2 linked regions of the Homo sapiens genome follow. The protein of the gene in region 1 interacts with the protein of each later gene in a pairwise test. Each region holds a gene or a part of one and is shown in the gene's direction. Other genes may lie near its edges.

Region 1 (4,291 bases):
TGGCCAGGACATCCCACTCCTATGAGCAACACTCTGGACCTCCTGCCACCCTTTCCCTCACCCCCAGAGTGGGCCCTGACCCCAATTCCAGAAGATTCCTCTGGCCTTTCACTCCACCCAGGACCCAGATGCTGGGGCTGGGAGTGGAAAAGCTGCAGGAGGATTGGGGGTTTCAGGCCTGAGAGTGACCAGGAGAGAGGACGCCAACACAAACAGAGCCCCAGGAAAACATGCATGTACACGTCTACACACACCCTCTCAGTGCTAGACAGAAGCATTCAGACCCTCTGCACAGCTCCAAGGAGGGAAACAGCAGCTCCTGCAAAGGCACCCAAGGCCCGGACAAATAGACCAAATAGACAGGGACATTCCACCCACAGGGCCAGCTCCTCCCGCTCCCGCTCCAGAGACACACACAAATACCTCTGGAGAGAGAGAGGCTCACACCTGTCTCCCCCAACCCTGCTTCTGAATGCACCAAATTCATGCACGTGATGGCACGTGTACAGGCAGCCCCCAAACCCACCCCAACTCTGGGCCGGCCCTGTCCTCCCCACCCCATTAGATCCGGAGAGGAAAGACAGGAGCCACGTGAATCTACAGTACATCATGGCAGGGCACATTCCCCTTCTCCCTCACAGGAGCGCTCACACATCCACAACCTCATACCCCAGCAACTGCACAGCGGAGCTGTGGATACAGTCCCCCACCCCCTGCAAGCTGGCACACGCCTGCCCATCACCTTGACAGCCTCTGACATCCTCCCCCACACCCACACCCTCCCCCGCACACACGCAGTCCTCCCACACCCTGCCACTCACACCTGCATCTTTGACACTCTGACACACTTACACAGACACACTCACACCACACCGGACCCCCCAAAACACACTCCCTGGCTATGGGCACCACAGGGCCCCGGCACACCCCTGCACACTCTCCCTGCCACGATGACTGACACGTGTCCTCCCACACACAACTCGGTCACACTCGCTCCCTTTCCAGGACACCCCCATTCACAGCGTGACAGGCTGGTACTCTCCCCACGACCTCGCAGGCCTCTCTGAAACTCCCAGTACCAGGACCACGAAGGGGTTAAAGCCAGAGTCCTGCCTCCCCGCTGCCCCTCTCCCCCTCCCTCCCCCTTTATCCTCTCTGCTGGACTCCATCAATAATGCAGCTTCAAGTTCTGGGGAGACCGCAGGGGGCCCCCCAGCTGGCTCCCCAGGCCTTGGCTCTAACTCCCACCCTCCTCCCAGCCCCAGGAGAACACGATTCTCCATGCTCATTGGCCAGTTTCCCCTAAACCCTCCCTCCGAGCACCCGGGCGCCAGTCCCAGGCGGAGGGGACGGGCTGGGGACCCCAAAGCTGGGACCGGAGGGTGAGCCCGGCAGAGGCAGAGACACACGCGGAGAGGAGGAGAGGCTGAGGGAGGGAGGTGGAGAAGGACGGGAGAGGCAGAGAGAGGAGACACGCAGAGACACTCAGGAGGGGAGAGACACCGAGACGCAGAGACACTCAGGAGGGGAGAGACACCGAGACGCAGAGACACCCAGGCCGGGGAGCGCGAGGGAGCGAGGCACAGACCTGGCTCAGCGAGCGCGGGGGGCGAGCCCCGAGTCCCGAGAGCCTGGGGGCGCGCCCAGCCCGGGCGCCGACCCTCCTCCCGCTCCCGCGCCCTCCCCTCGGCGGGCACGGTATTTTTATCCGTGCGCGAACAGCCCTCCTCCTCCTCTCGCCGCACAGCCCGCCGCCTGCGCGGGGGAGCCCAGCACAGACCGCCGCCGGGACCCCGAGTCGCGCACCCCAGCCCCACCGCCCACCCCGCGCGCCATGGACCCCAAGGACCGCAAGAAGATCCAGTTCTCGGTGCCCGCGCCCCCTAGCCAGCTCGACCCCCGCCAGGTGGAGATGGTAAGGGGCCCGTGCCCCACCCCGGCAGCGTACCCGACACACCCCGCGGGGCTTCTTCGCCCTCCCAAGGCGCTGCCCCGGCCGGACTGGCCTGGGGGTGGGGGCGCAAGGAGAGCCGGGCTCTGCCTCGGTCAGGACGGGGCGCGGGGCCGCGTGTGAAGTTAGCTGGAGACTCGTGCAACTTTTCCCCGCGGCTTTGGTCCTGATCCCGGGGCAAGAGAGTTCCTGGCAGTGAGGCTGGGGGTGCGGGGGTGGGGGGACAGGCCGATTCCAGACCGCCCAGGAGTGGGGTGGGGGCGTCCTTTGGTCCCAGCACAGTCCCCAAAGGGTAGTCAGTCTCCTAGGCTACCACCGGGACCGCTCCGCCTGGCTCTGTCCCAGAGCTGGTCAGATGTGAGCAGCGGTGGACACTGACCTTGTCACCCAGGGCAGGAGTATGAGGCTGCCACCGGGTGAATCCACTACCCTGCCCCTCTCTAATCCCGCGTGTGTGCCTGGGCTGGGGTCTCCAGAACCTGGCTCTGGCCTCCTGCTGTCAGGCCCCAGAGCCCCAACCCCAAGGAGGGAGAGGTGGGGAGTCATCACAAAGCCAGACCTCTTCCCACAGACTACTGAGTCCTCCTGAGGGCCTTCTTGGGGGTTGAGGGGCTTCCAAAGGCTGGCGGGTGCTGTGACAGAGAGCTCCACTTCCCATCCCTAGTGGAGCAGGGGTCACTTGTTGCTGAGCTGAGATGCAGCTGGCTCCCCACTGAGCAGTGATGAGGGGGCCAAGTCATTATGGGGGGAGATAGAGGGCAGGGGGTACAGTCCTGGGCCTAAGCAGCTTTGGGTCATGAGGGTGTCATGGGGAGCTTGGCTGGGGAGGTGGCAGTTTCAGCTTAACTCACCTGGTTCTCTTTGTGCATTTCCCTGGAGCTCAACAGGGACCTAATTAACTGACAGTTGGTCTGATTGCCAAGCTGAGGGGCGGGGCGGGGAGGGGGGCGGTCAGTTGCTGCTTGGCTCACGTAGCAAGGAGGGCAACTTTTCATTTCTCACAAGGACTGGGTGAAGAGTTCTGCAGCCTTACAGAGACTGGAAAAGAAGCCCAAACCAAGGCCCCCAGAGAGGTCCCCCAGGCCCCTTTGGGTCCCTGAGCCTCAGCTGGAGGTGGGGGGTGCCTGCAGTGCGCTGGCTCAGTCTCCTTCTGAAAAGCTGGATCCAGCTTGTTTGAAGCCCTTGAGCTGATCTTAGGTGGGCAGGGCCACATGGGTGCCATGGCCCGTGGGGCATCTTCCCCAGAGGGCCCAGCCGTGGCAGCTGGAGCTGTAGCCAGCTTTGGCTTCCGAGGTCTGATGTTTTCAGAAACTGGAGAGAGGAAGGGCCTTGGTGGGAGAAGATAGGAAGGGAGATGTCTGTTCTGGAGTAGCCATGGAGTGGGACAGGCATGGGCTGGGAGTCAGTGACTGGGGTTTTTCTCGTCCTTTGGACTTGTTGTGCTGTGTGGCCTTAAGCACATTGCCAAATCTCTCTGAGCCCTGCTTTTTCACCTCTGTAAAATGAGGGGGTTAGGTGAGCTACAGAGTTCCTTTTGGCTCTGACAGACTTTGATTCAAAGGTTCCCTGGGGACTCCAAAGCACTGTTTGTTCCCTGCTGCCTGGGGGTGGGGGAGGGCTGCAGGTGTCCATCCAGTCACCCCTCCCTCCATCTCCTTAGATCCGGCGCAGGAGACCAACGCCTGCCATGCTGTTCCGGCTCTCAGAGCACTCCTCACCAGGTAGGCCCCTCCCTGCCCACTTAGCCCTGGCCCCACCCTAGCTCTGATGCCTTCCTAGGGGCCCTGCCAAAGTCCCATGAACAGGAGTCAAAGCTGGAGACTGGGGAGTGGATAAGGTCTGGGAACCCAACTCTATTGGCTTTATTTATTGACATGACACCTCCCAGCCGCAGGAGGGAGAGGGCACACTTTCCCTGTCCCCAGAGATTGAGACCCTGGGGAAAATAACTCGGATTCTTTCTCTCTCTCCCTCTTCTCTTTTCCTCCTCGCTTGGTTCTGGTTCGGTTGGCTTTGGTGGCCTTCCTCAGAGGAGGAAGCCTCCCCCCACCAGGTGAGTTTCCTGGGGCAGCTGGAAGGAGGGATGCCTGGGCCCCTTGGGGTGGGGTGGACGGGTGCCTGCAGTGACAACCAACCAGTATGGGGTGCCACCCAAGAGGACACATTAGCATATCAATGGGCAGTCCTCTGAGAGTGCCTCATGCCAGGGTGCCACCAGCAGATCCTCCTCTGCTCAGACTCAGGGTGGAACCTCCTGGACCTAGAGTCCTGCCCTGAACCAGGCCATGGCTTATGGGGGGCCCCCCCTAAAGCCACAGGGTGGGGAGGCTCAGCCTAGGT
Region 2 (3,812 bases), on another chromosome or scaffold:
GACTGTCAAGCCCAGGCTCTTTAACCTGTGCCTGAGAGCATTGAGGAGTTTCTGAATTGCTCTTCTAATACCCCAGTTTATTTATTTGTGTCTCCCAAAATTGCTTGGTAATGGCTGCATAATATTTCATTTCTTGGTTGTACCATAATTTACATAACAATTATTTGGCAGTTAGATTGGCATAATTTTTTTGGGGGGGGACAGTGTCTAGGCTTTGTCTCCCAATCTGGAGTGGAGTGGTGCAATCTCGGCTCACTACAACCTCTGCCTCCCAGTTCAAGCGATTCTCTTGCCTCAGCCTCACCAGTAGCTGGGACTAGAGGCGCATGTCACCATGCCTGGCTAATTTTTGTATTTTTGGTAGAGGTGGGATTTCGCCATGCTAGCCAGGCTGGTCTTGAACTCCTGACCTCAGGTGACCCACCCACCTTGGCCTCCCAAAGTGCTGGGATTATAGGTGTGAGCCACCATGCCCGGCCTTGATTGGCCTGATTTTTTACTATTATCTGTGATGTTATTTTGAACATATTTATACTTAAAATTTGATTTGCGTATCTGATTATGTTCTTTGGGTAGAGTCCTTGAAAATCCTTATTTGTAGTAATTATAGTAACCACTAGTTTATTAATACTTCACATGAAATAGTCACTATGTTAAGTAAACACTTTATATATATGATTTTAAGACTTTCAGCTATAATCTTGTGGAGTAGTCAGTCAGACAAGGTTCTTCTATTAAGATTCACCAGGCTGGGTGCCGTGGCTCACACCTGTAATCCCAGCACTTTGGGAGGCCGAGGCAGGCAGATCACCTGAGGTCAGGAGTTCGAGACCAGCCTGGCCAACATGGCGAAAACCTGTCTCTACTAAAAATGCAAAAATTAGCAGGGCGTGGTGGTGTGTGCCTGTAATCCCAGCTATTTGGGAGGCTGAGGCAGGAGAATTGCTTGAACCGGGGAGGTGGAGGTTGCGGTGAGCCGAGATTGTGCCATTGCATTCCAGCCTGGGTGACAAGAGCAAAACTTAGTCTCAAAAAAAAAAAAAAAAAAAATTCACCAATCTTAGACTTTATGCAGTAGCCAAGCAAACCTTTTTCTCCACTATTGCTGTGAACTTTCATATTTACTATGTTCCCAGACTGGGTAGTGACTCCTCTTTCTACAATCTTCCTTAAAATTGAGGAAACTTTAACTAACATAAATCATTTCTCTTTTGCTAGCTCTGTGTTCTTTGAAGCAGTTAATGAATTTAGTTCCTCACAGTAGCTTTTGTTAGCATTAGATCTGTACTTTTATTTTGTTTGCATTTGTAAAGCATTTTTCTATTTCCTCTATCAGATTGTAAGTTCTTCAAGATCAAAAAGAGGAAAAGTGTTTTTTGTAGGTATTCATAATGCCTGGTAAAGGTTTTGCTGTTAATAGTTGCTAAAAAAATACTGCCAACTGGTTTGGCTAGCTAGCGGTACTGAAGCCTTGCTGTTGTATTCTTTTCAGGTGCACTGTATTAGCACAGAGTTCACTATGAGGAAACATGGTGGAGAAAAGGGGGTGCCATTCCGAGTACAAATAGATACCTTCAAGGAGAATGAAAACGGGGAATATACTGAGCACTTACACTCGGCCAGCTGCCAGATCAAAGTTTTCAAGGTATTCCTGGGCAATGTGCTGGCCCTTGGATTCTTTTACCTTATCATTCTATTTTAACATTAGTTACCAAGTCAGAAAATCAACTTGTCTTTTTTTGAAAACTCACACACACGCAAAAAGTCTAAGCTAGAGTCATTGAAATAATTACCAAGATGCCTGGTAAAGAAATTTACATGGTCGTAGGATAATAGGAACTTGGAAAAGAGGGCTAGAGGCAAGAACATGGATTCTCATTGAAAGCTCTTAAAGCCTATTGAAGTTACAAGCTCTTGTAAAGCTCACAAAAATTGACTAGTTATGGTTATTTTCATACTTGATCTTTTCTTATTTGGTCTTATTTATTTATTTATTTATTTTTGAGACTGGGTTTCATTTTGTCACCCAGGCTGGAGTGCAGTGACGCAATCATAGTTTAACCTCCTGGGCTCAATTGATCTTCCTGCCTCAGCTTCCCCAGTAAGTGGGACTACAGGCATGTGCCACCACACCGGGCTAATTTTTGTATTTTTTATAGAGAGGGGGTCTTGCCATGTTGCCCAGGCTGGCCTTGAACTCCCGGGCTTAAGTTATCTGCCCTCCTTGGCCTCCCAAAGTACTGGGATTACAGGTGTAAGCCACTGTGCCCCAGCCAGGGTCCTGTTTATTTTTATCACATGAATAAATATGTTCTCATTGTAAGAGATTGAATAATACAGAGGTATTCATAGCAACACTGAAATTCTCCCTTTACTACTCTTACACTGACCCCCTCCACAACCTCTTCCCAGAGGAAACCACTGTCATAATTTCATAATTTCGTATGTGTTCTTCTACTTCCCTCTTCTTTTTTTTTTTTGAGTCGGAGTTTCACTCTGTCACCCAGGCTGGAATGCAGTGGTGCAGTGCCAGCTCACTGCAACCTCCGTCTCCTGGGTTCAAGCTGTTCTCACGCCTCAGCCTCCCCAGCACCTAGGACTACAGGCACACACCACCATGCCCAGCTAATTTTTTGTATTTTTAGTAGAGACAGGGTTTCGCCATGTTGGCCAGGCTGGTCTCGAACTCCTGACCTCAGGCAATCCGCCTGCCTCGGCCTCCCAAAGTGCTGGGATTACAGGCATGAGCCACTGCGCCCAGCTCTTCTAGTTCCTTCCTATGCTTTTATACACACACATACATAGCTATATACATATTTTCTTTGACACATAAATGGGATTATACTATTTGAAATGTTTTGAGGCTAGGCACGGTGGCTCATGCCTGTAATCCCAGCACTTTGGGAGGCCGAGGTGGGCGGATCACAAGGTCAGGAGTTTAAGACCAGCCTGACCAAAATGGTGAAACCCCGTCTCTACTAAAGATAAAAAATTAGCTGGGTGTGGTGGCGGACGCCTGTAGTCCCAGCTACTGGGGAGGCTGAGGCAGGAGAATAATTTGAACCCTGGAGGCGGAGGTTGCAGTGAGCCAAGATCTCGCCACCGCATTCCAGCTTGTGTGACAGGATGAGACTCCGTCTCAAAAAAAAAAGAAAGAAATGTTTTGAGACTTGATTTTTTTCAGTGAACTATGTGCTTTAGAGATCTTTCCATGTCAGTAGCTATAGATCTGATTCTTTTCAACTCCATCGAATATAAACATTTAAATTTCCTATTTTCAAACTTAAAGTGATGTGTCTTGCCTTTACATCACTGCACATACAATTTTGTTTCATACATGAATATTTAAGTTTTTGGAAGCAATATTTTGGGTTAAAAGGTGAGTACCTGAATTTAAAACAAAATATTTCTCATTTCAGCCCAAAGGTGCAGACAGAAAGCAAAAAACGGATAGGGAAAAAATGGAGAAACGAACACCTCATGAAAAGGAGAAATATCAGCCTTCCTATGAGACAACCATACTCACAGAGGTAAAAAGATTTCTTTTGGTGACAATTTCAGTTCATAATTTTTAATCTTAAAAATTCATCACTTCCAAACTGGTCAGAATTTACTTCTCCTAAGCCTTGAGGGACACAGTATCACATGGATTCTGTGTCCAGCGGCCTTAACAGGAAGATTGCTTTAGAATTTGGCACGAACCATGCCACTGTCTCTGTGTCCAAGTTATCTTTCCCCAAATTACTCTGGTTTGGTTTGGTTTGCTGCAGGAGCTATTGTGGTGTTCTTTGCTTTGTATACATAAGCACATC

What was found.
Region 2: the proteins of PPP1R1B (region 1) and TFCP2 interact in binary tests that used the Homo sapiens proteins (3 or more experiments, as listed by UniProt).

What each region holds. Positions count from the first base shown.
Region 1 is NC_000017.11:39,625,559-39,629,849, forward strand, and holds the start of PPP1R1B (protein phosphatase 1 regulatory subunit 1B), read left to right. Parts: upstream 1-1,393; 5' UTR 1,394-1,834; coding exon 1,835-1,915; intron 1,916-2,944; exon of another isoform or gene 2,945-3,148; intron 3,149-3,611; coding exon 3,612-3,672; intron 3,673-3,981; coding exon 3,982-4,004; intron 4,005-4,291. UniProt on the Homo sapiens protein: Inhibitor of protein-phosphatase 1.
Region 2 is NC_000012.12:51,106,954-51,110,765, reverse strand, and holds part of TFCP2 (alpha-globin transcription factor CP2), read left to right. Parts: intron 1-1,492; coding exon 1,493-1,645; intron 1,646-3,419; coding exon 3,420-3,530; intron 3,531-3,812.